4 linked regions of the Homo sapiens genome follow. The protein of the gene in region 1 interacts with the protein of each later gene in a biochemical or structural test. Each region holds a gene or a part of one and is shown on either strand. Other genes may lie near its edges.

Evidence for each region.
Region 2: the proteins of MAP3K5 (region 1) and ARRB1 interact in a test that uses a peptide from one of them, tested with the Homo sapiens proteins (one study listed by BioGRID and IntAct).
Region 3: of the proteins of MAP3K5 (region 1) and MAPK8IP3, one has a biochemical effect on the other in vitro, tested with the Homo sapiens proteins (one study listed by BioGRID).
Region 4: the proteins of MAP3K5 (region 1) and PDCD6 form a complex in vitro, tested with the Homo sapiens proteins (one study listed by BioGRID).

What each region holds. Positions count from the first base shown.
Region 1 is NC_000006.12:136,782,464-136,789,486, reverse strand, and holds part of MAP3K5 (mitogen-activated protein kinase kinase kinase 5), read left to right. Parts: intron 1-3,432; exon of another isoform or gene 3,433-4,072; intron 4,073-5,212; exon of another isoform or gene 5,213-5,440; intron 5,441-7,023. UniProt on the Homo sapiens protein: Serine/threonine kinase which acts as an essential component of the MAP kinase signal transduction pathway. Plays an important role in the cascades of cellular responses evoked by changes in the environment.
Region 2 is NC_000011.10:75,271,659-75,278,681, reverse strand, and holds part of ARRB1 (beta-arrestin-1), read left to right. Parts: coding exon 1-73; intron 74-1,233; coding exon 1,234-1,318; intron 1,319-1,770; coding exon 1,771-1,843; intron 1,844-4,470; coding exon 4,471-4,608; intron 4,609-5,703; coding exon 5,704-5,787; intron 5,788-6,957; coding exon 6,958-6,981; intron 6,982-7,023. UniProt on the Homo sapiens protein: Functions in regulating agonist-mediated G-protein coupled receptor (GPCR) signaling by mediating both receptor desensitization and resensitization processes.
Region 3 is NC_000016.10:1,758,188-1,765,210, forward strand, and holds part of MAPK8IP3 (C-Jun-amino-terminal kinase-interacting protein 3), read left to right. Parts: intron 1-790; coding exon 791-808; intron 809-1,770; coding exon 1,771-1,828; intron 1,829-2,192; coding exon 2,193-2,345; intron 2,346-3,036; coding exon 3,037-3,118; intron 3,119-4,163; coding exon 4,164-4,294; intron 4,295-4,487; coding exon 4,488-4,544; intron 4,545-4,648; coding exon 4,649-4,819; intron 4,820-5,469; coding exon 5,470-5,596; intron 5,597-5,927; coding exon 5,928-6,023; intron 6,024-6,113; coding exon 6,114-6,272; intron 6,273-6,825; coding exon 6,826-6,991; intron 6,992-7,023.
Region 4 is NC_000005.10:274,645-281,667, forward strand, and holds part of PDCD6 (programmed cell death protein 6), read left to right. Parts: intron 1-1,367; exon of another isoform or gene 1,368-2,296; intron 2,297-7,023. UniProt on the Homo sapiens protein: Calcium sensor that plays a key role in processes such as endoplasmic reticulum (ER)-Golgi vesicular transport, endosomal biogenesis or membrane repair.

The sequences.
Region 1 (7,023 bases):
CGTACTGCTTCTTTCAACCTAGACAGGTCTCAGTTTAACCCCTGCCCATCTGGATGGCATGAACTCCCAGGATGAGTGCCCTCTCAGTCAGCATGAAAGCATGAAAATGTGACAGAATGAAGGTAGTGCATCAGTTTTATCCAAACCCTTTGTTTCTATTTTATTTTATTTGTTTTAGAGACAAGGTCTCACTCTGTTGCCCAGCCTGGAGTGCAGTGGCATGATCATGGTTCGCTGCTAGCTCGAACTCCTGGGCTCTAGTGATCCTCCTGCCTCAGCCTCCCGAGTAGCTGGGACTACAGGCATGAGCCACCACGCTGGGCTAATTTTATTTTATTTTACTATGTTTTTTTTGTAGAGACGGGGTCTTGCTATGTTGCCCAGACAGGTCTCAAACCTGGCCTCAAGCAGTCCTCCTGCCTTGGCCTCCCAAAGTATTGGGATTACAGGCGTGAGCCACCGCACCCAGCCTCCCATCTTTAAGTTTACTTGTACCCAATGTTTAGCTCCCACTTATGAGTGAGAACATTCAATATCTGGTTTGGTGTCTTTTTGGTAGAACAATTTATTTTCCTTTGGGTATATACCTAGTAATGGGATTGCTGGGTCGAACGGTAGTTCAGCTCTTAGTTCTTTGAGAACTCTCCAAATTACTTTCCACGGTGGCAGGACAAATTTACATTCTCACCAACAGTGTGTAAGTGTTCCCTTTTCTCTGCAGCCTCGCCAACATCTGTTATTTTTTGACTTTTTAACAAAAGCCATTCTGACTGGTGTGAGATGTTATCTCATTGTGGTTTTGATTTGCATTTCTCTGATGATTAGTGATGATGAACATTTTTTCATAAGTTTGTTGGCTGCTTGTATGCCTTCTTCTGAGAAGTGTCTGTTCATATCTTTCGCCTACTTTTTAACGGGGTTATTTGTTGTTTTGCTTGTTGATTTGTAGACCTTTCTTAAATGCGTAGTTTGTGAATATTTTCTCCCATTCTGAGGGTTGTCTTTGTACTCTCTTAATAGTGTCTCTTGTTGTGTAGAAGCTCTTTAGTTTAATTAGGTCCCATTTGTCATTTTTGTTTTTGTTGCAATTGCTTTTGAGGACTTAGTCATAAATTCTTTCCCAAGGCTGATGCAGAATGGTATTTCCTGGGCTTTCTTCTAGGACTCTTATGGTTTGAGGTCTTACATTTAAACCTTAATCCATCTTGAATGAATTTTTGTATATGGTGATAGATAGGGGTCCAATTTTATTCTGCATATGGCTAGCCAGCACCATTTATTGAATAGGGAGTCCTTTCTCCATTACTTACTTTGTTGACTTTGTTGAAGATCAGATGGTGTTAGGTGTGTGGTTTCATTTCTTGAGGTCTCTTTCACAACTTCTCAACTCTGCCCTATTACTCAAGAGCAGCCATAAACAGGACCTAAACAAATGATCATGACTATGTTCCAACCAAACGTTATTCGTGGACACTGAAATTTGAACTTCATATACCTCACAAAGTATGATTTCTTGTTTTATAACCATTTTAAAATGTAAAAACCATTCTTAGCTTGCAAGCCATACTCAAAAACAGGTGGCCCACAGGATTTGGCCCCTGTGCCATGCTGACCTTTGCTCTACACCCATGACCTGTACTTGAAAGTTGAATTTTTATGAGATAGTGGGAAGAACATGGTCCCTCATATTAGATCCGAGTTTTCATCCCAGCTCTGCTGTGAACCATGTAATTGTGAGAACGGCCCTTCATTGCCTCCAGTGGTGTTTCTTTGCCTGTAAAATTGACCAGGGTTAGAAGTGAAGGGGGAATTGAACACATTTTTTTAGGATTCCCTTATTTAATCCTGTGAATTTACAAAGGCAAGGTGGCATGGGATGCAGGCACAAAGCATTAGAACAGCATTTTCAAGGTTTGGCTTTGGGTCCTGATTCTTTTCTAACTTGGAGCAAGTCATTTAAAGCCTCAGAAAAGAGTGGAGTGTTGGAATAATTGGTATCTGAGATTCCCTCCAGCTCTCAAATTCTGTACTTTAAAATGACAGCATTATTAAGACAAATGAATCATTTCAGCTCGTAGAGATTAAATGAACTGCTTGTATATATCATATTCCTGCCCCTGAAGAGCTCAGAGTTGGTGGGGAGGGCAGACCAATGCCTTTGCCTTAGCAGTGCCTCTGTGCCAGGATGCTGGGCTCCCAGGAATCAGCTTCAAAAATCAGATTGAGGATACAGTGGGTTCAAGGGTAGCTTCTTATGCTTGTTTTTTGTTTGCTTTTTTCCTTTTTGTGGAGAATGGGGTCTCGCTATATTGCCTAGGCAGGTCTCAATTTCCTGGGCTCAAGCTATCCTCCTGCCTCTGCCTCCCTAAGAGCTGGGATTACAGGTGTGAGCCACCACACCTGGCAAGGGGTAGCTTCTTAAAGGTGGTGACACCTGAAGTGAAATGGCAGGGTAAGCAAGGAGAGCCTAATGAAGGTCTCAACGTTTACATGGGAAACAGTGATGTTCGAATAGCTCAACCTAACGGAGTGAGTAAGAACTTATTCCCAGCTACTCGGGAGGTTGAGGTGGGAGGATCCCTTGAGCCTGGGAGGCTGAGGCTGCGGTGAGCTGAAATCGTGCTACTGCAGTCCAGCCTGGGTGACAGAATGAGACCCTGTTTCAAAAAAAAAAAAAAAAAAAAAAGAAGAACTTAAAGTTTGGTAACATTTTTAATAAACTTTCCCAATCTTTGTGTACTGATGTCTTTAAAAAGAATAGGTTGCAAGTTAAAGGTTTTCACTGATTTTTTCTTGATCTGTTTACTATTTAACTATATTTTAATTTCTTCTTTGACTACAGTTGTCATTTGCTTTTTCATTTTCTTTCTGAGGTGAAGCTAATGCTCTGTCAATGCTTTTATGAAAATTCATCTTATTTACGTATACAAGAGACTGTCACTCAGAGACAGCAAAGCCAAGCTGACAATACCCCTTCTTTGCCCTCTGCATTGTAGGCAGAAAATTCCGTAAAAGCTAAGAGATGTCAATACTATCGTGTTGCCCTGTGTAGGTGGACAGATCCCAAATGGGAAGCTTTCCAAATTTTTTTTTTTTTTTTTTTTTTTGAGATGGAGTTTTGCTCTTGTCACGCAGGCTGGAGTGCAGTGGCTCGATCTCGGCTCACTGCAACCTCTGCTTCCTGGGTTCAAGTGATTCTCCTGCCTCAGCCTCCTGAGTAGCTGGGATTACAGTCATGTGCCACCACATTCCAGCTAATTTTTTTGTATTATTAGTAGAGACAGGGTTTCATCTTGTTGGCCAGACTGGTCTCAAACTCCTGACCTCAGGAGTGATCTGCCTGCCTTGGCCTCCCAAAGTGCTGGGATTACAGGCGTGAGCCACCGCGCCCAGCCCTAAATTTTTTTTAAAAGACATCAATGCTGCTATTCTCTTGTTTTGCTTATGAAAACACTGAACCGTGAAGAGGTTATATTCATTCATTCAGGTTAAATGTTTGAAGGTTCTTGCTTGGAGCACACTTTTCTTAGAAACAGTATTGCACATGGTGGTCAGATTCTGGGACTAGCCTGTAAGAAGCCTGGTTAACACAGTTTATGGAACCATTCACCATTTTAAACATTCGGGAAAATTCTGTTTCTGAAACCTAAAACCGGGACTTTTCTTGTATTAGAGCAGTGACTTTTGCTTTCATCCACCTCTGAGTAGCATCTTGGCCAGATGTAGGAGAAGCATCAACTTGGAGTGGTGAAGGTGGTGGGGCTGTGGTGAGGAAGGGGACAAAGGGAAGATCAGGTGGCTGCAGGGAGAACCGGGATGCTGTGTGAAGGAGGAGGCAATGCCAGCAGGAGATCCAGCAACACTTTCACTTCCTTTAGGCTTCTTCCCTTTCTACTTCTGGCCGACGTAAGACCCAGGGATGCTGCTGTGCTCAAGGCCACCTCACTCCTTCAGTGGACACAGGGTTAGCTTGGCTGCCTGCTTCCCATTTCCTTACCACCAGCCTTCACATCCGCCCGGGCCTTTCAGCTTGGCTCACTGCAGATTGCAACCGCTTACTCAGCCTTTCACCCTGTAGCAATCATAGGTAACAGGAAGGAAGCACATGCTAGTTAAAATTGTAAGAACTTAGCTTTTCTATTCTCATCCATGGTATGTTCCCACTTTACTTGAGCTTGTGACAAAAGTCGCCCATGTGTTAATATGCCATCTTGCTGGAGAGGCATCTGACCTTGCCAGGCTTTGGCTCCAACTTGCTTCCAGCAAAGCTCCTTAGGACTTCTAATCTTATTTGGTAAAACAATAAAACAAAACAGAACATAACCTTGTATCCCATCTATCCCAGATGGAGAAGTTCTTGAAAATTGTCCAGCCCACTTCTGCATTTCTACTTTCAATATACTTTCCGAGTATATTGTCTCATATATTTTGAAGGAGAGAGTAAAGTCTGTATGTCCTAAATAGTGGTTCCCACGAACCAGTTAAAAAAATTTGGAGGACTGACATGTGTTTGCCAACATTTAAATTTTTCCAAGTAAGAGTATTATAAGTAGAGAAAGTGAGGAAAATCGAGAGAGAGAAAGAGAGACAGAGAGACAAGAAAATCAACAACCAGCCACCTATTGCCATGATTTCTTAAAAAGGAAAGTTTTATGTTAAAAAAAAATTAGTGGGGGACATAACCTTAGAATGAAGGGCAGATCTTCACATACAGAAAATGTGTGCAAAAACTCATGACTTGTTATTTATTTTTCCCATTTCTCCAAGGATGAGTGAAAACTTTATCACACCAGTCAACAGAGTTGTGTTTGAGAGCCTCTGATTGGAACCGCCCTGCAGCCCCTTCCCACCTTTCAGCCACTGCTTCACGTGAGAAACGAACCTTAGTAAAATTATCAAAAGAGCAAACGTAGATAAACTCATAAGGGAAAACTCTAGTTAGGGAAGGATTTTTTAAAAAAATCCCAGTGGTGTCCAACACATGGTTTTTCTCTGAGCTGTTCACGTTCCCTGGCACACCATTGTAGCAGCTGCCACCCACCGCACACAAACTGACAGCACTGCTGCTTCTTGCTTTCTTGGATAATGGGTCAATTAAGGCAAAACTATAATTTTTTTAAAAGAGCTTAACTAGAAAATCGGACGGAAAAAAGCAAAATCAAAAAGAAAACTCCAGAGCACAAAATTAGTTTTTAGAGTACCAATTTCTTACCCCACATCATCAGCTGCATGTTGTCATGACCGGCTCTGCTTCCTGGGCTGCCAGGATCCTGGTTTCTTTCCTTAATTTGGTCACCTGTTGTCTGCTTGAGACATTATCAGTTGGTAGTTCGAGCTGGTTCCATCTCTGGGTGAAGCCTGTGCATTATATAAGCGCATAACACAGGCTTGTCTCACCCGTGGCCTTGGCTGGAGCCAGCCTTTTGGGAGTTCTCTGTTTATAGGGCAGTTCCCCTCTGGTGGCTATAAGAACTGTGCCCTACTTCCTGTTTCAGAGGTCTGGTTAGAGGCCCATTCAGTTCCTGTTTCTGGTTTGCAGGATAAAATTGGTTCACACTTTCTTTGTGGAGCAGTGGGAGATGGACAAGCACAAAGTCCGGGAAATGTGCAAGTCTCTCCAGCATGAGGTACCAACCGTGCCTGCTTTCCAAGTACTTCCTCCAAGTGGTCCCTTCAAACACCACTCCAAGCCAGGAAAGTAGAGAACCATAGGAAAATGCATTATTGGCTACTGACTCCAGGGCTGACAGTGTGCTGTGCAATGATGGCCCCTCCCAGGAGGCCATTCGAGGGCCTTTTATCACACGCTCCCCTTTCTGTCACCCATGGAAGCCTCACTGTGGCTGTAGAACATGCCAGCATTTGCCCCGCTCCACCTGGGGCAAGATGAGAGTGGGAAATGTGGTGGAGGTGGGCAGTGTTGCAGGAACCCACAGCTATGTGGTTATCAGAAGAAACTGGGAACCCACAGCTTTGGGAAAAATATATCTTGAAGACAGCCTCATCTTCCTGTAATTTGGATATAGGTAGGTGGGGAAACTGGCTAGATATGAGAAAGATACCCTCATTTTCAGGGAGTAAAATTAAACTTGAAAATTTTATTAGTGGCATAAAAGGGAAATAAAGGAAATCAAGGCAAAATGATAAATTAAAAATCCATTGGTGACTCTGATATATTGGTTTGTGTAGTTGTGGGTTTTTTTTTTTTTTAAGAAGATCTTGCTCTGTCACCCAGGCTGGAGTGCGTTGGCATGATTTCGGCTCCAACTGCAACCTCCGCCTTCTGGGCTCAAGTGATCCTCCTGCTTTGAGCACAGCCAAGCCTGGCCAATTTTTGTATTTTTATGTAGAGATGGGGTTTTACCATGTTGCCCAGGCTGGTCTCAAACTCCTGGACTCAAGCGATCCTCCTGCCTCAGTCTCCCAAAGTGCTGGGATTACAGGCGTGGGCCACTGCGCCTAGCCTAGTTGTTTTAATGTATTAGTTTTTCTCTTTGGCTAAAGGTATTGACTAGAGACACTAATCGAAATATGTGCCAGGTTAGTGGAAAAGCAGGAAGGATATGAGACAAAGCTGATTTTCAAAATCTTGTCTAAGTGTTCAAAAAATGTAAATAATTGATAACTTACATTTCATATGAATTTTATTTTGTAGTGTTTTTGGTTTTCCAAAGGAAAACAGAAATAACTGAAACTACATTGTGATAATTTTCTTAGGGGAGACAGGAGAGAGAATTTTAAATATTAAGGGCATTTCCTATTTAATAAAATCATAGTAGAGCAGATCTGTATAACTTAAATGCCACAGAAGTTGCACAGGGTAACAGAAAACATTCCACTATAAGCAGACCTTTTCTGTTACAGTAGTTCATCAACAATGAGGAAAGCAATTGCCTTTGGTATATGATTCATACAGGAAGTAAGTTATATTCCTTTGTACTGGCAATCTCCAAAAATGGTTGAGACCAGTTATACCAGTACTTTCCAATACTTGTAGCCTCTTCTACACCCGTGAACTCTTAA
Region 2 (7,023 bases), on another chromosome or scaffold:
CACAGCCGAGACCACCAGGCAGTTCCTCATGTCGGACAAGCCCTTGCACCTAGAAGCCTCTCTGGATAAGGAGGTAGGAGGCTCGGACTTGGCAGGGGGTGGGGGCTGCTCCACCAGGGCCTGGGCCTCAGATCCCAGCTCTCTCCTGGCCTGCAAGGATGCCTCAGGTAGGAGCTTCTATCCCCAGCCCAAGGACCACAGGGGTCAGGGAATCTGAGACCTCTCATGGGGGATTTGGAGAAGCCTCTTGGGCCTAAAGGAGTGGCAAAGGGGGCATGAACTTGAGAGATGTGATGGACTTCCGAAGTGAGGAGCAGACCTTCCTGAAGGTCCTGGACATCTCCCCCACACCTCCACCAGCTGCCTGCCTCAGGCCGAGTGCTGAAGGTCAACCAGCATTGCAGAGGGGGCACGGTGGGGGGCCGTGACCTTCCTGCCAAACACTGAGCGTCAGGGCGACAAGCCCTGCAGAAGGAAGGGCCTCCCCTCAAACTCTGAATCAAACCCAGCTGACTGCTGTGAGCTTAGGCTGGCCCCTCCTCAAGGTGTGGGCACCCCCTCTCTCTCGGGGCATGGCTGAAGGGAAGTGCCTTGGGGCAAGATGCAAGTTGAGGTCTTTTTGTAGGGATTCAGAGCTGGCTCCCTCAGTGAGCTGGTGAGCCCATCCTCACCTTTCCCTGCTTCTTCCAGATCCTTCTGTGGACAGAATTTAGAGCTGGCAGGGACTTCAGACATCACCTAGTCCAACCCCTTCGTTGCACAGAGGGAGACCCTGAGGCTTAGATAACCTACCCACGGTCACACTGCTTTCATCATCGTCAATGTTATTGTTGTTATTGTTGTCACAATTACTGCTGGCCAAGCCAGGGCTGGAGCCCAGGACTATCACCTTCCAATTCCGTTATCTTTCAAGGGTCCCACCAGGGAACTGAAGGCTAATGTGCTTGGTGGCTTTCATGCCACCTTAGCAGCAGTGGGAAGTGGCTGATGAACTTGGGGCAAATGTCACAATGCCTTGGGGGATTCGGAGAAGCCTCTTGGGCCTAAAGGAGTGGCAGAGGGGGCATGAACCTGAGGGATGTGATGGACTTCAGATGGGAGCAGCAGACCCTTCTGAAGGTCTGCGCAAGGTCTGGGGAACCCCAGAAGATCGCGTGGGGGCTTTTCTCCCTCCCCTTTCCCTAGAACCTTGCTGTCCTCCCAGCCAACCCCGTCCCTTCTTATGCCCCCCAGATCTATTACCATGGAGAACCCATCAGCGTCAACGTCCACGTCACCAACAACACCAACAAGACGGTGAAGAAGATCAAGATCTCAGGTATCCCAGACAGAGGGTCAGCTTAGGGGACAGCGAGAGGCAATCTTCCCAAGGGCTGGGGGTGGCTGAAGTATCTCCCCTTGTTAACAGCCTTGTATAAAAAATAGCCACTGAAGCCCAGGGCCTGCTCTGAGCCACAGGGCAAAGCTTTTGAGTTGGGTAAGGCAGGCTGCTTATTGGCTAGGTAATGAGTTTGCTCTTTAAGCCACCTCTTCAGTTTCTTGGGTTCTGGACAAAGCTGTCCTTGAGGGGAAGGCTTTGGTTATGGAAGGAAATGGGTGTGTTTGGGGCTACCCTTTGGATGTAAGACAGGGGTGGTCTTATGCAGAAGTCCCCACTGGTGGCCTCTGGCCATTGCCTGGGGCTGAATATCCCCAACCCGGGGACGCCTGTGAGACTCCATGGGAGCTACATTCCCGACTCACTCCACCTTGATTCCTCTCCCTCCCTAGTGCGCCAGTATGCAGACATCTGCCTTTTCAACACAGCTCAGTACAAGTGCCCTGTTGCCATGGAAGAGGCTGAGTAAGTGGGCACAAGTCTGGCCTTGGGCGTATGGGATTGGGTGGGAAAAAGAGAAGCTCTAGGTGTCCTGTTACAGGTCCAGGTGGCTCTTCTCCACCTGGCAGAGGGCTGGGCCTCAGACTTCCTTGCCACTCAGAGTAGATGATCCCGAAGAGCCTTTTAGAAACCATCCACCTGATTTAGCTTCAAGAAAATGCATGCTACAGTCAAGGAAGAGACCCACTAAAACTAGAGTGACAAAACAATAGCTAATGAATGTAAGGGGATTGGGGTTGTGAGAAGAAATAATTACGTTGTACAAGAAACCTAGGTTGAAGGGAAATACTTTGTTCTTGGCTTCCTGGTAGCCAGGGCAAAGTGGGTAAGGCACTAGGTACACAGCTCTTGTCTGATAAAGGGGTAATCCAACTCATTGGGAAAAAGGGGTTGTGTGTGGGAGTGCAGAGAATAATTACACACAAAAAAATCATCTAGGTTTGAGGAGAACTGCTATGGTTGAGCATGGATCGAACTTTGTCCCAGGCTTGTTGGCAGCTAAGGCAAGTGGAGAGATCTGAAGTGAAACATCTTTACTTACCTAAAGGAAGTAAATGCTCCCATTCAAAGACATACACATTTTTTTTTCCTGGCCCTGCAAGTAATTTCTTGGGGCAATTATACCTGATATAATTTTACATGTATATGTGTATTTGTTTATGTATAATTCCAATCAGTATTTCTTGCAACTGAAAATATTTTTAAAATGTTACTACATGGCCTTTGAAATAGTTTTTAATGTCCTATAGGTGAACATGCTATGATTAGATCAAGCTTTCTCTGGTTACTGGATATTTTTCATATCCACTGTTGATTTTTTCAAAAAAATCAGAGCTATGAGGCATAGATTCCTGATGGTAAAGTGAAGTGATCTAGAACCAGAGTAACATATAATCCCTAAAGAGTAGAAAATCCCAACCACTGCAGATGGTGCCAGCGTCTGCATAACGAATACCAGCAGGGATGGCTGGGGAGGCATTTGCACTCACAGACTTGTTTACTTCTCAGGAAGCGCTGTGGGGCTGGGGTTGCTGCTGCCCCAGTATGTAGAGGAGGAAGTGGCTCAGAGAGATGTGACTTGCAAGTTAGCAAGCAGCAAAGCTGGGGCTGGAACACGGTCGTCCGACTCCAAGGCTTGTTCACTATCTGCTGCATGACAGCTCTCTCATTGGAAAGGATGGGGGATAGAGCAAAAGCAAGTAAAAATTGGACAATCAAAACACCCTATATATGATGGATGTGATCAAGCAAGTAAAGTTTTAATTGTTGAGCCTAGATGGTGGGTATATGGGTGCCCAAATAGCTTCATTTATGGTTTATGTGTAGCTATAATTTTTTCTTTTTAAAATGTGTTTAGAGACAGGGCTGGTGCTCACGCCTATAATCCCAGCACTTGGGGAGGCTGAGGCAGGCAGATCACTTGAGGTCAGGAGTTTGAGACCATCCTGGCCAACATGGCAAAACCTCATCTCTACTAAAAATACAAAAATTAGTCGGGCATGGTGGCGCGCCCCTGTGATCCCAGCTACTTGGGAGGCTGAGGTAGGAGAACTGCTTCAACCTGGGAGGTGGAGGTTCCAGTGAGCCAGGATCGCACTACTGTACTCTAGCCTGGGCGACAGAGCAAGACTCTGTCTCAAAAAAATAAAATAAAATAAAATAAAATAAAATAAAATAAATTTAAATTAAATTTGTTTAGAGACAGAGTTTCACTCTGTTGCCCAGGCTGGAGTGCAGTGGTATGATCATGGCTCACTACAGCCAGCCTCGAACTCCTGGGCTCAAGTGATCCTCCTGCCTCAGCCTCCCAAGTAGCTAGGACTACAGGTGTGCACCACCATATCAGGCTAATGTTTAAAATTTTTTGTAGCGATGGGGTCTTGCTATGTTGCCCAGGCTGGTCTCAAACTCCTAGCCTCAAGCAATCCTCCTGTCAGCCTCTCAAGTTGCTGGGATTACAGGCATGAGCAACTGTGCCTGCTGTGGCTGTACTTTTTTTTTTTTTTTTTTTGAGATGGAGTCTTGCTCTGTCACCCAGGCTGGAGTGCAGTGGAGCAATCTCGGCTCACTGTAAGCTCCACCTCCCAGGTTCATGCCATTCTCCTGGCTCAGCCTCCTGAGTAGCTGGAACTACAGGCGTCCACCACCATGCCCGGCTAATTTTTTTGTATTTTTAGTAGAGACGGGGTTTCACCTTGTTAGCCAGGATGGTCTCCAACTCCTGACCTCGTGATCTACCCGCCTCGGCCTCCCAAAATGCTGGGATTACAGGCGTGAGCCACTGCACCCGGCTGGCTGTAATTCTTTAAATAAATGTGCTTTTTAGCACTGTGCTGCTTGACTAGGATAATCTTTTAGAATATCCGAGATTCAGTCCTGTTTGTGCGTAGAATGTAGATGTGCCTCTTTTGAGTGGCAGTGGTCTCCTTGCCCGAGCTGGGCTGGCCCAAGTGGTCCGTGTGTCTGGGGGACAGAGGTTGGGAGAGGGAGACTTGGAGCAGGCTCAGACTAGATATTCTGCTGGGCTGGAGATCAGGGCTGGGGTTGGCTCTGGGGAGGGCCATCTCCACAGCTGCTTCCTTTCTTCCCAGTGACACTGTGGCACCCAGCTCGACGTTCTGCAAGGTCTACACACTGACCCCCTTCCTAGCCAATAACCGAGAGAAGCGGGGCCTCGCCTTGGACGGGAAGCTCAAGCACGAAGACACGAACTTGGCCTCTAGCACCCTGTGAGGACCTGCCCTCCTAGCCCTGGGCTCCTAGTGCATCTTGCCTGATGGGGCCACACCCTCCTTGGTCCCCCCAGTTCAAAGACAAGGCTCAGGCTACCCTCTCCATAGCCTTGTCAGGGCCTGTCCTCAGGTGCTTGACTTGTCAGGGAAGCTGCCTCCTTACTCCCAACCCTACCCAGGGGTGACTGAGAGAATAAGATGGACCACTAGGCCAGCTCACTCAGGCAGTGCTGGGCTCTGCTACCATGCCTGGGGGAGGGCAACCTGGGAAGGCTTCCTGCAAGAGGTGGCAGCTTCTGACGTAATGCCTTCAGTCAGATGGGGTGTCCCTGAGGAGAGACCAGGGTGGTGAGCTGGGTTAGACCCAACATGGGGTGCCCCTCCAAGTCAGGGGTCCCAGGGCATCTGGTCACTCCTGCTGCACAGTCATCGTGGACGCCTCTAGGCTACTCTGCTCCAGCAGAGCCCTGGCTATGGGGATGCCATCTTGCCCTCTTGCCAGTGTGGTCCTTCAGTGGGGCTTTGGCCTACGTCTAGAGCAGCCGCCACTCCCAGCACAGACTCAGCTCTCTTCAGCAGCCCCTGCACAGCCTCCCACTTACCTGAAGCTTTTTGCCCTGTCTCCACCCTGGCTCACACCCTACCCATCTTCAAGACCCAGCTGAAGCACCACCTCTGCGGAGAAGTCCTTCTCTGATGGCCCCCACCCCACCCCACCCCAGCTGCCTCGCCCTCTGTGAACTCCCCGTGTGGCCCTTTCTGCCCATGGGTTGCTGAGAGAAGCAGAATCCATCTGAGGGGAGGAGGAGCCTGGCCCTCATGGCGGGGACGCTGGCCTGGGCAGGGAGAGGGGCTCAGCAGGGCCACACAGTGAGCGAGTCTCACAGTCAGACTTGGAACCGGGGCTCTGGGTCCCTGCTACCTAAGGGCACTGCTCGCCTTCCTCATCTCCACTGGGCTCTATTGGACATGGTAGCTGAGTGGCTAGCCAGATGGGGGATGGACGGCCACTGCCCCCCAGCATACCCACCCCTGAGGTGTCTCGCCCACCTGGCAAGGCCCCTGAACTGGCTCCCCTGTGTCACTTTGCAGGTTGAGGGAAGGTGCCAACCGTGAGATCCTGGGGATCATTGTTTCCTACAAAGTGAAAGTGAAGCTGGTGGTGTCTCGGGGCGGGTGAGTGCTCCAGCCAAGCCCAAGACCCCGGAGTGCAGAGGGGAGCGTCCCAGGTGCCCACAGGCCCCTGCCCCATTCTGCCTGTTTGCAGCCCTTTTAGCTGCATCCACCTTGGAGGAGGAACCTCCTGTCCCTTCTTTTCCTCCCTTCTGTTCCTCTTTCTCCCCCGCCCGCTTTCCCTCTCTTCCTTCCTTGGCCCTCAGCCCCTCTCTTACCCCCACCCATCTCTTTCTCTCTCTCCTCCTCCTCTATCCTAGGTCTGGGCTCGCACTGAGGATTGGCCATGCCCAGGGGACGGCGTCCTCAGAGTCTTTGCTGTGGGGTCCCCAGGGGTGCCATCTCCTTATCACACTTTGGGCATAGCACCCACCCCCATGCATGCCCAAGCTGATTTTCTGAGGAAACAGCTAAAAGGGCTCAGAACCCAGAGCTGGATTGGGGATTTGCTAGTCAGCTTTCCCATTTTACAGATGGTGAAACAGAGGCCCAGACAGTGCCCCAAACATTGCCTGAAATCTCCTCTCCTAACTCAGGTCATAGTGGTGGACCAGACTGCCCTGCCCTGGAGCATAGTTTGGTGGAAGCTCAGGGAGAAAAACAAACAAACAAACTACTGTGTTTCTTTTTTGTAACTTAATTCATAAATTTCTATGAAAAGATTGAAAAGCTAAATCCCATTAGACATTGGGTCTCCTTGATTATTAGAAGAATGCCTCTTGGCAGGTGGCAGTATGTAATCCTGACCTTATATAATAGGACATCTCAAAATTACAAATCCCAAATCCTGTGTCTGGTGACCTTTCAGGACCCACAGTCCCTCAAACATTCTTGGCAACCCCGGAGTCCTTCCCTCTGCCTTTAGATAGTCCGGCCTCCCTTGGGACAGGCAGCACTGGGGTTAATTTTTACACTGCCTTGACAGATGAGGATCCTGGGGCTCAGGGGTTTGCTGAGCTGGGTCTGGATCCCAGTCCCTCGGGGCAGGGCTAATGCCATTTCGGTGTATCCCTGAAAGAGCAGTCAGGGCTGTGCAGGGGGGTGGGTGGGAGTGTGTCCCGTGGGTCTTCTCTATCCGGGGGACAGCAGAAGTGGTGAATGAATGTGCTTTTTGTTTTCTTCCTCTCTGAACTCTCTCCTGACCACTTCTCCTGCCTCCTCTGACCCACCCAGCCTGTTGGGAGATCTTGCATCCAGGTAAATTCCTCCCTTCCACCTGGTTCACCCACCTTCCTGGAG
Region 3 (7,023 bases), on another chromosome or scaffold:
CCCTCTGTGTGACGGGGGGAGTGGGTGGACGGGGGATGCCCCGAGCTATCCCGTCACCGTGGCTGTGTGGACTGCCCCCCACGTCGCCGCAGCGCCTCTGCTTCTGCTCGCAGCCACCGCCGCTCGGAAGCTTGTTCGGTTTGCTCCACCAGCCACTTGACAATGACCTGGATATCCAACCCCCCCAGCCTGAGGAGTCCCCCGCGGGCCATTTCTGAAGGCCCTGCGGAGCCCTAAGCCACGCACGGCAGTGACTGGACATGGCCAAGGCCAGCTCTGGGGCCTCCCCTGCTGTCAGGCACACCCCAGAAGTCAGGGGTCCTTGAAGCCCCTACGAAGCCCAGCCCGGGGTCCCCTCCCCACGTGGGTGGACAGGCCGAGTCCTGCTCTCTGGCTGCACAGCAGGAGGCTCCGAGGCCCCACCCAGAGGCTGTCCAGATGCAGCCCCCCAGCCTCCAGGCACAGCCCATCCCCACAGGGGTGCCTTCTGCCCTCAGCCCCACCCAGCCCAGAATTTGGGGTGAGATGTTAGCTTCCTGCTCCACAGGTGACACTGGCCTGGCAGTCTTCATGTAACCCCAAGGATAAACTTTCCAGAAGGAATAGCTGGCTCCATCCCATCTCCTGCCCTCCTAACTCCCTCCTGCACCCACCCTAACCCAGCAGACCCAGCTCTGAATTCCTCCCAGCCTGCTGTCCACACGGGCTTAACGCGCTTCTCTTCTCTCCCTTTCTCCCTCTCCTCCCGCCCTGGTTGCCCATCTCCTGTGGGACGGGGACGGCTCCCTAGTGCGCGATGATTTCTTTGGTAAGGCTGAGGCCCCGTTCCAGCGTGCGTCGCTCCTCCACCCCGACATGGTCTCCTGCTTCATGAGCCGTTTGCTTTGTTCTGCATGATGGGGACAGTGTTGGGGCCGCCGGGGTCAGGGGGGCAGCCCTGAGTGAAGCTCGCTCTGTCCAGGCTGCCTCTGGGCTGTGGGAGGTGGCGACTTCCCCAAGGGACAGACTTGAAGGCCCGAGGAGGGCAGCCCCAGCCTCTCTGAACCCCACAAGCGCCGGGCAGACCCTGCCTGTGGGGAGGAAGGCCCATGTTTGAGGCAAGGGAGGTCATAATAGAGACAGCAGGCAGGACCCCTGAGCCCAGGCACAGAGGCGTGTGATGCTGTTTCATGACTGCATACACAGTGGGGGAGTGTGTGGGAGGGCAGGACCTTGGAGTTTCTTTCCATCCTTTTGGGGTTTCTGGGGCATGCTTGCAGGGAGATCAGTCCAGGTCCACTTGGGGCCTCGTGGTAGAGGAGCCTTCAGTCCTGCCAGGGAGCCCTGTCCTCACAGCCGCGCCCCATCGCCGCACCCCAGCCCTGCTGGCCCTGCCGTGAGGGCCAGGCCTCTCCTTGCCCACCTGTCCCCTCACCGCAGCTCCAACATCACTCGCCTAGGGTGGTGGCTCCGAGAGGGCCTGCCTGGTGACAGACCTGCTGGGGGCACTGAGATGGCAGCCCAGCGGCCATTCAGGGGCCTGCGTCCGGCCAGCTGGCCTGTGACATTGGTCGGACATGAGAACCACCCCAAGGCCTGGGAGCCTGCTCTGTGCACAGACTGCGGGCCCAGCATGAGCCCCGCCCTTCACGGCCCCCGCTCCCTGTAGATCGGGCGTCATCCCCAGCCAGGCTACCCTCTTTGGAAGCGTTGTTGCCCTGAGGCAGGTGCGGCGGCATCAGTGACCTGTTTTGAAGGGCACAGGTGAAACCTCCGCACCTTCTGTTTCAGGAATGGGCAAAGAAGTGGGGAATCTGCTACTGGAAAACTCACAGCTTCTGGAAACCAAGTAAGAGTGCCCTTCTCCTGTGTGGTGGGGCTGAGGCAGCCCTCCTTGTCAGGGCTGGGAGAGTGAGCCGGGCCAGAGGGCGCCTTGGGGAGCACCTGGCTCCAACGCCAGCAGCTGTCCTCATCTCTGGCGGGAGGAACTTGGAGCAGGACTCTGCCTGGTTTCTTTACGAAGCTTGTCTCCAGGAGCCTCTAACAAGGGTGCTATAGGGTTTAGCTAAGATGGGGATGGGGTCTCCCATTCAGCCACCTTCCTAACCAGGCTGTGCCTTCTCCAGGGCGGAAGTGCAGGCGCCCCTGGCAAGGCCCCTTCACGTACCTGTATGCCGCGCCCGTGGCACTCCCATCTTTCTGCTTTTTCAAAGAAACGCCTTGAATGTGGTGAAGAATGACCTGATTGCCAAGGTCGACCAGCTGTCCGGGGAGCAGGAGGTGCTGAGGGGCGAGTTGGAGGCTGCTAAGCAGGCCAAAGTCAAGCTGGAAAACCGTATCAAGGAGCTGGAAGAGGAACTGAAAAGGTGAGGGCAGGGCATGGAAAGCTGGTCAGAGAGGGACCCCGGCCTCAGGGCTCTGGAGTGGCTGCCTCCTCCAGTGCCTGCTCTCCAGCCTGAGCGGCTCTGTGCATAGCCTACCTACCTCCAGCTCCAGCTCACAGCCACTCCACCCCAACCAGCAGAGTGGGGCCGTGGTCTCCTCCTGAGCCTCCTACAGCACACGCTGGGCCTGTCTCACGCGTTCCTTCTCTGCACAGCTCCCACCATCCCACTCCTCCAGCCCTTTGATCAGCCAAGGTTTGGCCACGGCCCCCGGAGAGCTGTATGTTGGGGCTCCAGCCCTTCTCTGATGGACAGAGGAGGTGTGGGCGCTCCGAGACCATGCCTCTGCCTAAGAAGGGACCCAGATCTGCTCTGGGTTTGCCAAAGCCAGGGCCCCTCTGCTTTGCTCCCCCTCCGCATTCCCGGGCAGCCAGGATGGACGGCTGGGCTTCAGAGCACTCATGCAGCAGTGGCTCAGGGCCACCTGTCCCCAGGGAACTGGAAGAAGCGTTCAGGGCCCTGAACCAAACGGCTGCTGAAGGGGTCCCTGTGGGGAGAGCCCCCAGCCCTGCACAGAGGCAAGGACACAGGTTCGGGGCGGGCACTGCCCGCTATGTGTTCCCGAGGCCCCTGGGAGGCCCTCACCCTCCCTGCCTCCTTCCCCTTCCCACAGAGTGAAGTCCGAGGCCATCATCGCCCGCCGTGAACCCAAAGAAGAGGCGGAGGATGTAAGCAGCTATCTCTGTACAGAATCGGTACATCCACTCTTCACTCTTCACATGCGGGGCGTCCACCATTCACTTTTCACAGGCGGGGCGGCCACCGTTCACCATTCACACACAGGGTGACCACCATTCACCATTCACAGGCAGAGCGGCCACCATTCACCATTCACAGGCAGAGCGGCCACCATTCACCATTCACAGGCGGGGCGGCCACCATTCACCATTCACAGGCGGGGCGGCCACCATTCACCATTCACAGGCAGGGCGGCCGCCATTCACCATTCACACACAGGGCGACCACCATTCACCATTCACAGGCAGAGCGGCCACCATTCACCATTCACAGGCGGGGCGGCCACCATTCACCATTCACAGGCGGGGCGGCCACCATTCACCATTCACAGGCGGGGCGGCCACCATTCACCATTCCCAGGCGGGGCGGCCACTGTTCCCACACATTCACACGCCGGGTGACCACTGTTCATACGCATTCACACGTGGGGCAGCCATCATTCCCACACATTCACACGCTGGGCGGCCACCATTCACCATTCACCATTCACACACAGTATATCCTACTATTCACACTCGGGGCATGGGGATGCGGGGTGCCTCCCGGGGACTCACCGGCGCTTCTGTCTCTGTACAGAATCAGTATATCCCACAATTCACATGCAGGGCTGGGGTGGGCACGGGCAGGGGGCCCAGGCGGGCTCCTGGGGACTCGCCGGCTGTTCTGGGCTGACAGCTCTCCCACCCCTCCTGGGTGACACCTGACCCCAGCGGCATCATCTGCCACCCCACTCCTGAGACCACATGGAGTCAGAATCAGGCCCTTGGGCAGGACCACAGCCCTGGCAGGATGCCGGGTCCCCTGTCAGCACCCAAGTCCTGGTGCATGCCTTTTGTATGGTTCCCCTCCCCGCTTGCCGACACCCCTCCACACCGCTTCTTGCCTGAGGATCTGAAGGAAATTGGCACTGAGATCCACCTATACGTGTAGGCACCCCAGGAGGAAGCAGGTGTCACCCGGCCTCCGAGGGCTGGCTGAGCCTCTGTGCCCCTCCCTCCGCAGGACAAAATCCCCATGGCCCAGCGCCGCCGCTTCACGCGGGTGGAGATGGCCCGTGTGCTCATGGAGCGGAACCAGTACAAGGAGCGGCTGATGGAGCTGCAGGAGGCTGTGCGGTGGACTGAGATGATCAGGTGGGAGTTGCGGCCACCCCAGGAGGGGCTGCGGGATCATCCCTGACGGCAGGACTGCGGCTCCCTCCTCTGCACCTCCCTGTCTTCTGGGGGGACTGAAGTGCGCTGGGTGCTTCCTGGCGGGAGCCAGAGAGTCGCAGGTAAGGGAGGCGTGAGGGCACTAGCAGGTTGCTCCCTGTGCCCTCCCCTGCAGAGCGTCCCGAGAGCACCCATCCGTCCAGGAGAAGAAGAAGTCGACCATCTGGCAGTTGTAAGCTGGGGGCCCCTGGGGGATGTGGGCAGCAGCTGCAGGGGAAGGGGCAGGGAGGTTCCCTGGTCCTCTGCCCACCCCTCACCTCCCTGTGCCTCTGGCAGCTTCAGCCGCCTCTTCAGCTCTTCCTCCAGCCCCCCTCCGGCCAAGCGCCCCTATCCCTCGGTGAACATCCACTACAAGTCACCCACCACTGCCGGCTTCAGCCAGCGCCGCAACCATGCCATGTGCCCGATCTCGGCAGGCAGCCGGCCCCTGGAATTCTTCCCTGACGAGTGAGTGTCCCGCAGCCCCCACTTGTGGCCTGCAATGGGGTTGGGGAGGCCCTGTCCTGAGGCTCCTCCCCTCCAGGCCCTGAAGCGGGACTTTGAGGGCAGCCTCCACCTTGCTGGCCACATGCCAGGGGCCGTGACCTCTCCCTGCACACTGCCTGCCCCTCCCTGCAGCGGGGAGCTGGGCTGCTTTGGCTCCACGGTATTTGGTTCAGGATGTCCCTTGGCAGAGGCTGTGCCCACCAACAGTCAGGGGGCTGTGCTGGGCTCCACGGTGGCCTCTGCAGCAAGGAGCCGTTTCAGGCGTCTGTCCAGCAGGGAGTCGCTGGTCATGCCTGTGCCCCGGCGGCACTCCAGGTCCCGGTCTGTGGAACCCTCAGTGACTGTGGCAGCAGAGCAGCCTCTGGGTCGAGCAGGGGCCAGCTGTGGCCTCCAAGCCCAGGGGCATAGCCGGTGCCAGGAAAGCCACCCTTCCCAGCTGGGCACCCAGTGCCGGGAAAGCCACCCTTCCCAGCTGGGCACCCGGTGGCCGGGAAAAGGCGAGGATGGGCCCAGGCGGGCCTCCCTGCCGTGACCTCCCCCAGGACAAGCCTGGGGCACTGTGGGGGCCGCTCACCCTGGACAGAGACATCACCCATCATTCTTCCACTCAGCGACTGCACGTCCTCCGCCCGTCGAGAGCAGAAGCGCGAGCAGTACCGCCAGGTGCGTGAGCACGTGCGTAACGACGACGGCCGTCTGCAGGCCTGCGGCTGGAGCCTGCCCGCCAAGTACAAGCAGGTGCGGGCGGGCGCTGCGGGGACCGGGCGGGGCCCCGCAGAGGCGGGGCGGGGGTAAGGGGCGGGGCGCTGTGGGGCGGGGAGAGGGCGGGGCAGTGCTAGGGGGTGGGAGAGGACGGCGGGTGGGGCGGGGCCTGGCAGGTTCCTAGTGAGCCTCCTGGGCAGGGGTCTGGAGGGTCGGAGAAGGAGCCCCGCGGCTCCCACGCCCCCACCTGCCTCCAGTCTTGAAGTGGCTGTGCCGCCAGAAGCTGGCAGCCCTACCTGTCTCAGATTTCTGGAGGGATGGGTAGGAGCCAGGGTTCGTGCCCACGGCGCCTCCCTGCTCCCTGCAGCTGAGTCCCAACGGGGGCCAGGAGGACACGCGGATGAAGAACGTGCCGGTGCCGGTGTACTGCCGCCCTCTGGTGGAGAAGGACCCCACCATGAAGGTGAGCCCGCGAGGACCCCGCTCAGGCTGGCTGGGCGAGCGGGAGGCTGGGGAGTGCCGGTGACACCCGACCTCGGCCCTGCCCTTGCAGCTGTGGTGTGCCGCGGGCGTCAACCTGAGCGGGTGGAGGCCCAATGAGGACGACGCTGGGAATGGAGTCAAGCCAGCGCCAGGCCGCGATCCCCTGACCTGCGACCGCGAAGGAGACGGCGAGCCCAAGAGCGCCCACACGTCTCCCGAGAAGAAGAAGGTGAGCATGGCCGAGGCCACCGGGCACCCTCCCTGGCTTAGTCTCAGGACAGCTCAGCTGCAGAGCATGCTGGGAGTGAGACACAGGACAGCTGGGGACAGCACCCGGAAGCAGGGCAGCGCAGGGGCTCCTAGACTGCGGGAAGCAGTGTCTTCCCTCACCAGGACTGAGCCGCCTTCTGGGTTTTCAGTTTTCACCCCCCAGGTGGCCTGGAGTGGGCCTGCACTGGGCTGCAGGGGTCAGGCAGGCAGCAGGCACAGAGGAGCCCAGGAGCGGCAGAGCTTGCCTCCCAGTGGTGGGAGGCTTAGTTTTATGCCCAGCTTGGGCCTCTTGGAGCTCAGGGGCCTCTTCTGTGGAGGCGAAACCGTGTCTGTGAGTGCTTTAGAGTGCAGTCCTGAGTCCGCATTGTTCTGGTCCTGGGGGAGGACAGCCATGTCCCCTCAAGCTGTAGTCAAGGCTGGATCCTGACAGATTCTGGGAGCCCCATGGCCCTGTGCTGCCACCGGGTAGCCTCAAGCTCGGGCTCTGACCTTGATCCCGTGCCCTGAAACAGGCCAAGGAGCTCCCTGAAATGGACGCCACCTCCAGCCGGGTGTGGATCCTGACCAGCACCCTGACCACCAGCAAGGTGGTGATCATCGACGCCAACCAGCCGGGCACGGTGGTGGACCAGTTCACCGTCTGCAACGCGCACGTGCTGTGCATCTCCAGCATCCCCGGTGAGCAGCTGGAGTGGGCGTTTCCACTCGGG
Region 4 (7,023 bases), on another chromosome or scaffold:
ATGATGGTTTCCACTTACTCAACACTCACACGCTGGGCTAGGCACTTAACCCAAATCCAAGGTCAGCATTATTGTTTGGGGGTGGGGGAGACACCTCCTGCTCTGACTTGTGTGTTTGGGTTCCTGTATTTTCACCAGAGGGAGTTAGTCCTGCCCCAGTTCAGCTGGTCCTCAAAGTGTATATAGCTCTTTAACCATCAGCAAGTGTCTATCAGAACATAATCTTGATTTCAGCTGCTACTAAATATCTACCAGGAGACTGCTTGAGAGAATTGCCTGATGGGTGCTGAGTCCACCATTCCTGAGATACTTTGAAATCAGTGGCTTAACCCAAGCTGTGTATCGGGACCCTCTCACCGTGGTCCCAATGGAGTCACTTTTCTTAGGCGCCCCCCTTTACCTTGGGCTCTGAGCTTCCTCTGCCTTTCATCTCTGTGGGATGAAGCCCCACCGCCCTTCAGGATGCAAAGCCCTCTTCTCTAATGTGAGTGCAGGGCCAGGTGCAGTGGCTCACGCCTGACCTCCCAACACTTTGGGAGGCCGAGGCAGGGGGATCCCTTGAGCCCAGGAGTTTGAGACCAGCCTGGGCGACACTGTGAGACCCTGTTGCCTGAATTGCCCTGGGAGATTTCCTCAGCTTGTGCTGGGGGCATGTGGCCCCATGAAGCCCGTAGTCACTGTTCACCCTGAGAGACGCTGGCTTTCGGGCTCACACACCTGCTGCGGGGCAGCCCCAGGAAATGGCCACCCCATTTCTCCTGGAGCTGCGCGTGTTCTCAGAAACTGTGGTGGCCGTTCTGTTTTGTTTGCATCTTATAAACGTTTACCTGATGACATTTTCCTCTTCAATTTAGCTGCTAGAAAATTTAAAGTCAGGTTGGTGGCTCACCAGTAATGAGAGTTTAGAGTAGAAGTAAACTTTATGACATAGTCTTAGACTCTTCACTTTCTTCTCAACCAATATGATTCACATTTACTTTATTTTGCTGTACCGTGAGTGTCTCTGTGTTTCCTGAATTCCTTCTGGAATAAGGCAGGTTGTTAGTAAGCACAGGTTTCTGGTCCATCTCACAGCCTCAGGCAGTGGGCATTGCTGTCGGTGCTCCCTTTCCGGGTTACCTGTGGTAGCTCTCAAGTTGCAGGGCTGCGATTTGAAGCCTGATTTAGTACACCGTGTTTCTGTTGTGTTCTGTGGTGGTTTGCTCCTCACATGTGAGCATTCACCGTGGCCCTGTGTTTTTCCACCACACCTCTGCCTGGTGGCATCCTACTGGATGTCTCAGCCGAGCCACTCTGTTCTGAAGATGCCCTTGTCCTCCACCCCTTTGCTTTGGGCTCTAAGCTTCTTCTGCCTTTCATCTCTGTAGGATGAAGCCCCACCCGCCCTTCAGGATGCCAGCCTTGGCAACATTGTGAGACCCTGTTTCTACAAAAAGTAAATGAGTGTAGTGGTGCACGCCTGTATTCCCAGCTACTTGGGAGGCTGAGATGGGAAGATCACTTGAGCCTGGGAGGTTGAGGCTGCATTGAGCTGAGATCAAGCCACGGCACTCCAGCCTGGGAGACAGAGCGAAACCCCATCTCAAAAAAACAAAGAAAGTGGATGCGCGCTGCTCCTGCCATTGGATCATCGCAGCATTTTTCTTTTCTCTGATATGCACCTTTTTCCTCATCGTGGGGGCTCACGTTTTCATAGTTCCCTCTCACTACTAGGTTGTGAGCTGCGTGAAGGAAGGTTCATAGTTGTGTTGTATGTACAGGCACACAAAATTTGTCCTTGGATAAACACATATCCTCTTCCTTCTTCTCTCTGAATTTCTTTATTTTAAGAAAAAAATTAGAGATGGAGTCTCACTGTCTTGCTCAGGCTGGTCTCAAACTCCTAGGCTCAAGTGATCCTCCTGCCTCAGCCTATACTAATATGAATTCCTATACTAATATGATTGAAATTAGTTTGATTTCTATAATAATTGTGCTCCCAGATTGGGCTTCTGTTTTGATAGTAGAACTAAATTATTAGGCTATTTCAAGAAATTAATATATTACTGGTAGAAAAACTGAAGCTACAAAATGGCCTGGTTTCTCACTTCAGTTAAATTTGTGCTTCTGAGTGCTTGTATTCTAGGTGAAACCACACTGAGAAGGTATTTGTGGCCCATACACTGATTCCTTCATGAGACTTGTTTGCACAGGAGAGCTGCTAAAAATTACTGCTCTCAGGGAGGTCTGTGGTGAACAGGTATGAAGAAGAAGACTGTTCTCTGCCCTTCTTTTTGCAATAAAATGTTCCAAACTATCTTGAGTTTGATCCCTTTTCGGGTGTTTGGGGTTTTTTTAACATTCACATATTTCTTGGAATTATAAGAAATTAACTTTGTGCTTCTGAAGTAGGTTTGCCTTAATATAACACTGATGTATTTGTAAGGGGCATTTTTAAAGCTGTACTTTAAAAAATAATAATTCTTACATTCGTTTGAAGGTTTTTTTATGTGTGTTTTTGAGACAGAGGCTTGCTCTATCGCCCAGGCTGGAGTGCAGTGGCACGCTCTTGGCTCACTACAACCTCCGCATCTGGGGTTCAAGCGATTCTCCTGCCTCAGCCTCCTGAGTAGCTGGGACTACAGGTGCCCACCACCACGCCCAGCTAATTTTTTGTATTTTTTTTTTTTTTTTTTTTTTGAGGCAGAGTCTCTGTCGCCTAGGCTGGAGTGCGGTGGCACTATCTTGGCTCACTGCAAGCTCCGCCTCCTGGGTTCATGCCATTCTCCTGCCTCAGCCTCCCGAGTAGCTGGGACTACAGGCACCCGCCACCATGCCTGGCTAATTTTTTGTCTTTTTAGTAGAGACGGGGTTTCACCGTGTCAGCCAGGATGGTCTCGATCTTATGACCTCATGATCCACCCGCCTCAGCCTCCCAAAGTGCTGGGATTACAGGCGTGAGCCACCACGCCCAGCAATTTTTTGTATTTTTAGTACAGACAGGGTTTCACCATGTTAGCTAGGATGGTCTTGATCTCCTGACCTCTTGATCTGCCCACCTCAGCCTCCCAAAGTGCTGGGATTACGGGCGTGAGCCAGGGGGCCAACATGGTGAAACCCTATCTCTACTAAAAATACAAAATTAGCCGGGAATGGTGGTGCGCGCCTATAATCCCAGCTACTCGGGAGGCTGAGGCGTGAGAATCACTTGAACCTGGGAGGCAGAGGTTGCAGTGAGCTGAGATAGCGCCACTGCACTCCAGCCTGGGGGGCAGTGAGACTCCATCTCAAAAAAAAAAAAAAAAAAGAATAGAATAACCCTTGTTTAGGTGTTAACAAAATCCAGGCCAGACAAATCTAAACTTTAATCTCATACCCAGTTCCTAGATGAGTCCCTTCTCCAGCTCAGGTTCCGCCTAAGCCTCAGGGTTCCTTACTTGGTGGGCACCACCTGCTCCCTTCCCCACCTTTGTCCTCTTTTTCCTCTGCTGGCTCCTCCGGGGTTGGGTGTGTTCAGAGGCAGAGACAGGCTAAAGGTCTTTGGCTTTTAGGTTCTGTTGGTGGGTGAGTTCCAGATATAGCTTTCTCTTGTAGGATATTTCATTTATTTATCTATTAAAAATATTTATTTAGAACACACCATTCATGTGCCAGACCCTGTCCAGGCACTGGGGATAGGGTGATAAATGAGATCAACAAAAATACCTGCCCACATTAAGCTCCTGTTCTAGGGAAGACAGAAAGAAAATACACGTGTCCTTAGTATATTAGAAGATTCCAAGTACTGTAGAGAAAAATAAAGCAGGCTGGACTCGGTGGCTCATGCTTGTAATCCCAGCACTTTGGGAGGCTGAGGTGGGAGGATTACTTGAGCTCAGGAATTTGAGACCAGCCTGGGCAACATGGCAGATCCTGTCTCTCCCAAAAAAAAAAAAAAAATTTAGCTGGGTATGGTGGCGTGCATCTGTAGTCCCAGCCACTGGGGAGGCTGAGGAGGGAGAATTGCTTCAGCCTAGGAGGTGAAGGTTGCAGTAAACCGAGATCGTGCCATTGCACTCCAGCCTGGGTGACAGAGCCAGACCCTGTCTCAAATAAAACAAAAGGAAAGAAAGAAAATGAAAAAAAGAAAGAGATGGGGCAAGCAGGGGAGAGGGCTGGGGACACAGGGGAGGGTGCTGGGGATGCAGGGGAGGGTGCTGGGGACACAGGAGGGTGCTGGGGATGCGGGGGAGGGTGCTGGGGACACGGGAGGGGCTGGGGACATGGGAGGGGCTAGGGATGCAAGCTTTCCTGAGTTCCCACAGTTCTCTGCCCCTCTCCTGTCTCACGGGGTGTGGGCCACCTGTGGCTTGCGGTTGTTTCGCGCCAAGCTAATATCTTGTTCTTCCCAACAGAGAGGCCCGTTGAGGCTTCTCTGTCCTCCATGGGGAACAGCATTGGCCTAAACCTGCAGACACCATTGCAAAGGGAAGTCAGCTCAGGCAAACCCGCTGGTGAAGAAGAATTCCAGTGTGGGGACACAGAGACTGACATTTCTTGCCATGGGTGATTTAATTTTGGGCCTCAGTTTTTCATTCCCCCCTAAGAGTATGACGCAGCCGCATCCTTGCCAGGGCCGGAGGGAGGGTGGATGGACTTATAGGTGTTGCTTGTGGCTGGGTGACTTGCTTCTGCCAACGAGATTTTCACAGACACGGCACAAGCAGAAGCCTGGAATGTGTGGCACTGCCAGGCCTGCCCTCTTAGGCTCTTGATTTTCCCCACGAGATATGCGTGCCCCAGGGAACGGCGGCTCTGGCTGTGGAATGAGAGGCGTGTGGAGCAGGCATGGTTCCCACCCTCAGCCTAGAGTCAAGGCCAGACTAGATCAGCCTAAGCCCAGCCACGCCACGGGTGCAGCAGTGAAGAGCAAATGCCAACTGTCCATGACAGTGACTTTCAAAGGGGCGTGTCATGTGCCTCATCCCAGCAACAGGGAAGGCATTTCTCTATCAGTCAGTTGGTAAATGATTATTGACAATGTGTGGGAAGGTGGAGTTATTTGAGTAGATTTGGCCTCTATTCTCATGGAGCTTCCTTTCTAGAGGGGAAGGCAGATGATGGATGAATAAATATAAATGATTCTAATAGGTTGGTGCAGCAGTCATTAAAAGTAATGGCAAAAAAAAAAAAAAAAAAAAAAACGAGGAGCCGGTGCTGCAGTTCATTAATAGTAATGGCAAAAACTGCGATGACTTGTGCGCCAACCTAACCCAGTAATCACGGGTGTGCAAAATGTGGCGATGGGCAAGTTCCGAGTGCTAGGAGAGCATCTAGCTTCCCGGAGTCAGGAGACGGGGGTTGGCAACCTAACCAAGGTTAAGTCCAAGGGAGGGGGGTGGGCAGGGAGCGATATTTCAGTGGAGACTCCAAGGACGAATGGTATTTAGAGAGTAAACCCCGATAGAGAGGGTTTGTGTCTGGCACAGAGAAGAGCCTGTGCAAAAGCCAGCGGGGCGAGAGGACACCATGTGTTCATCCACCTGAGGGGCGACCAGCAGGCTGGAGCTCAGCGGGTTGAGAGGAGGATGCAGAGCCCGGGAAAGGCACCCTAGGCAGAGGGCACAGCAGGGCAAAGGCCTGGAGTCAGGCCTGAGCCTGTGTGGTTTGAGGAACGGATAGAGGCCTGTCCGGCAGGAAGGGAACAGCACAGGGGAGAGACCTTAGGCCAGAGCAGAGGGCAGGGCTGTGCTGGGCACTGTGGGCTGTGGATGGTGCTGGCATTTAAGAGGGGAGACCATAGACCAGGGCAGAGGGCAGGGCTGTGCCGGGCACTGTGGGCTGTGGATGGTGCTGGAATTTAAGAGGGGAGACCATAGACCGAAGTAGAGGGCAGGGCTGTGCTGGGCACTGTGGGCTGTGGATGGGAGCTGGCATTTAAGAGGGGAGACCATAAGCCAGGGCAGAGGGGTGGGGAGGGCTGGGCCAGGCACCAGAGTGGAGACCACAGGCCAGGGCAGAGGGCAGGGCTGTGAGGGCACTGTAGGCTGTGGATGGGAGCTGGCATTTAAGAGGGGAGTCCATAGACCAGGGCAGAGGGCAGGGCTGTGAGGGCACTGTAGGCTGTGGATGGGAGCTGGCATTTAAGAGGGGAGTCCATAGACCAGGGCAGAGGGCAGGGCCGTGCTGGGCACTTTGGGCTGTGGATGGGAGCTGGCATTTAAGAGGGGAGACCATAGACCAGGGTAGAGGGCAGGGCCGTGCTGGGCACTTTGGGCTGTGGATGGGAGCTGGCATTTATGCTCAAGTGATGGGAATATGTTAAAAGATTTTAAGGAGGGGAGTAACAGTTGGGATTAATGTGTATTCTGGGAATCTCAACAAAGTAAATTCATAGTTCGAATTTTCATAAGACTTCTGCACAGGCAGAGAGAAATAAGATCGCATCTACAGCTGTGTGGTGATTTTCTTTAAAAATACTACTAAGTTTTTAAACGTGATTTCAAATGGTGTGTTTCTGTTTCACATTGGACATAAGTAGATTGCAAGGCTAATGGAAAGTAGAAAAGTTAACTCATGAACATAAAAGAGACATCGATTTGAAAACAAAACATTTATTCATTTACTTCTGCTGCAGTTTTCTTGACTGCTGAATTTCGTAAGAAGGGATTGGTCAGGGAGGGTCTTGGGGCTGAAGACCTGGAGAGGAGCTGGTGCTATCGCTGTTCAAATCTGAAGGTGGTGGAGATGGAGCCTTGGGGAGGAGCCGGTGCTGCCTTTTAAGTCTATGAGAGTCGTTGAGCTGGAGGTCCAGGGAAGAGCTGGTGCTGCCACTGATGTCTTAGGTTGTGGAGCTGAAGACAGTGAAGGAGCTGGTTTGGCTGTTCTGTGAGGGTCGTGGAGCTGGAGATCCAGGTGGGAGAGGTGTTCTAGTTTGAGGGTCATGCAGATGGAGATCTGTGAGGAGCTGATGTTATTTTAATTGGTGGGTCGTAGAGCTGGAGACCAGGGAGGAACTGGTGTGGTTCTAGTTTGAGGGTTGTGGAGCTGGAGACACAGGGAGGA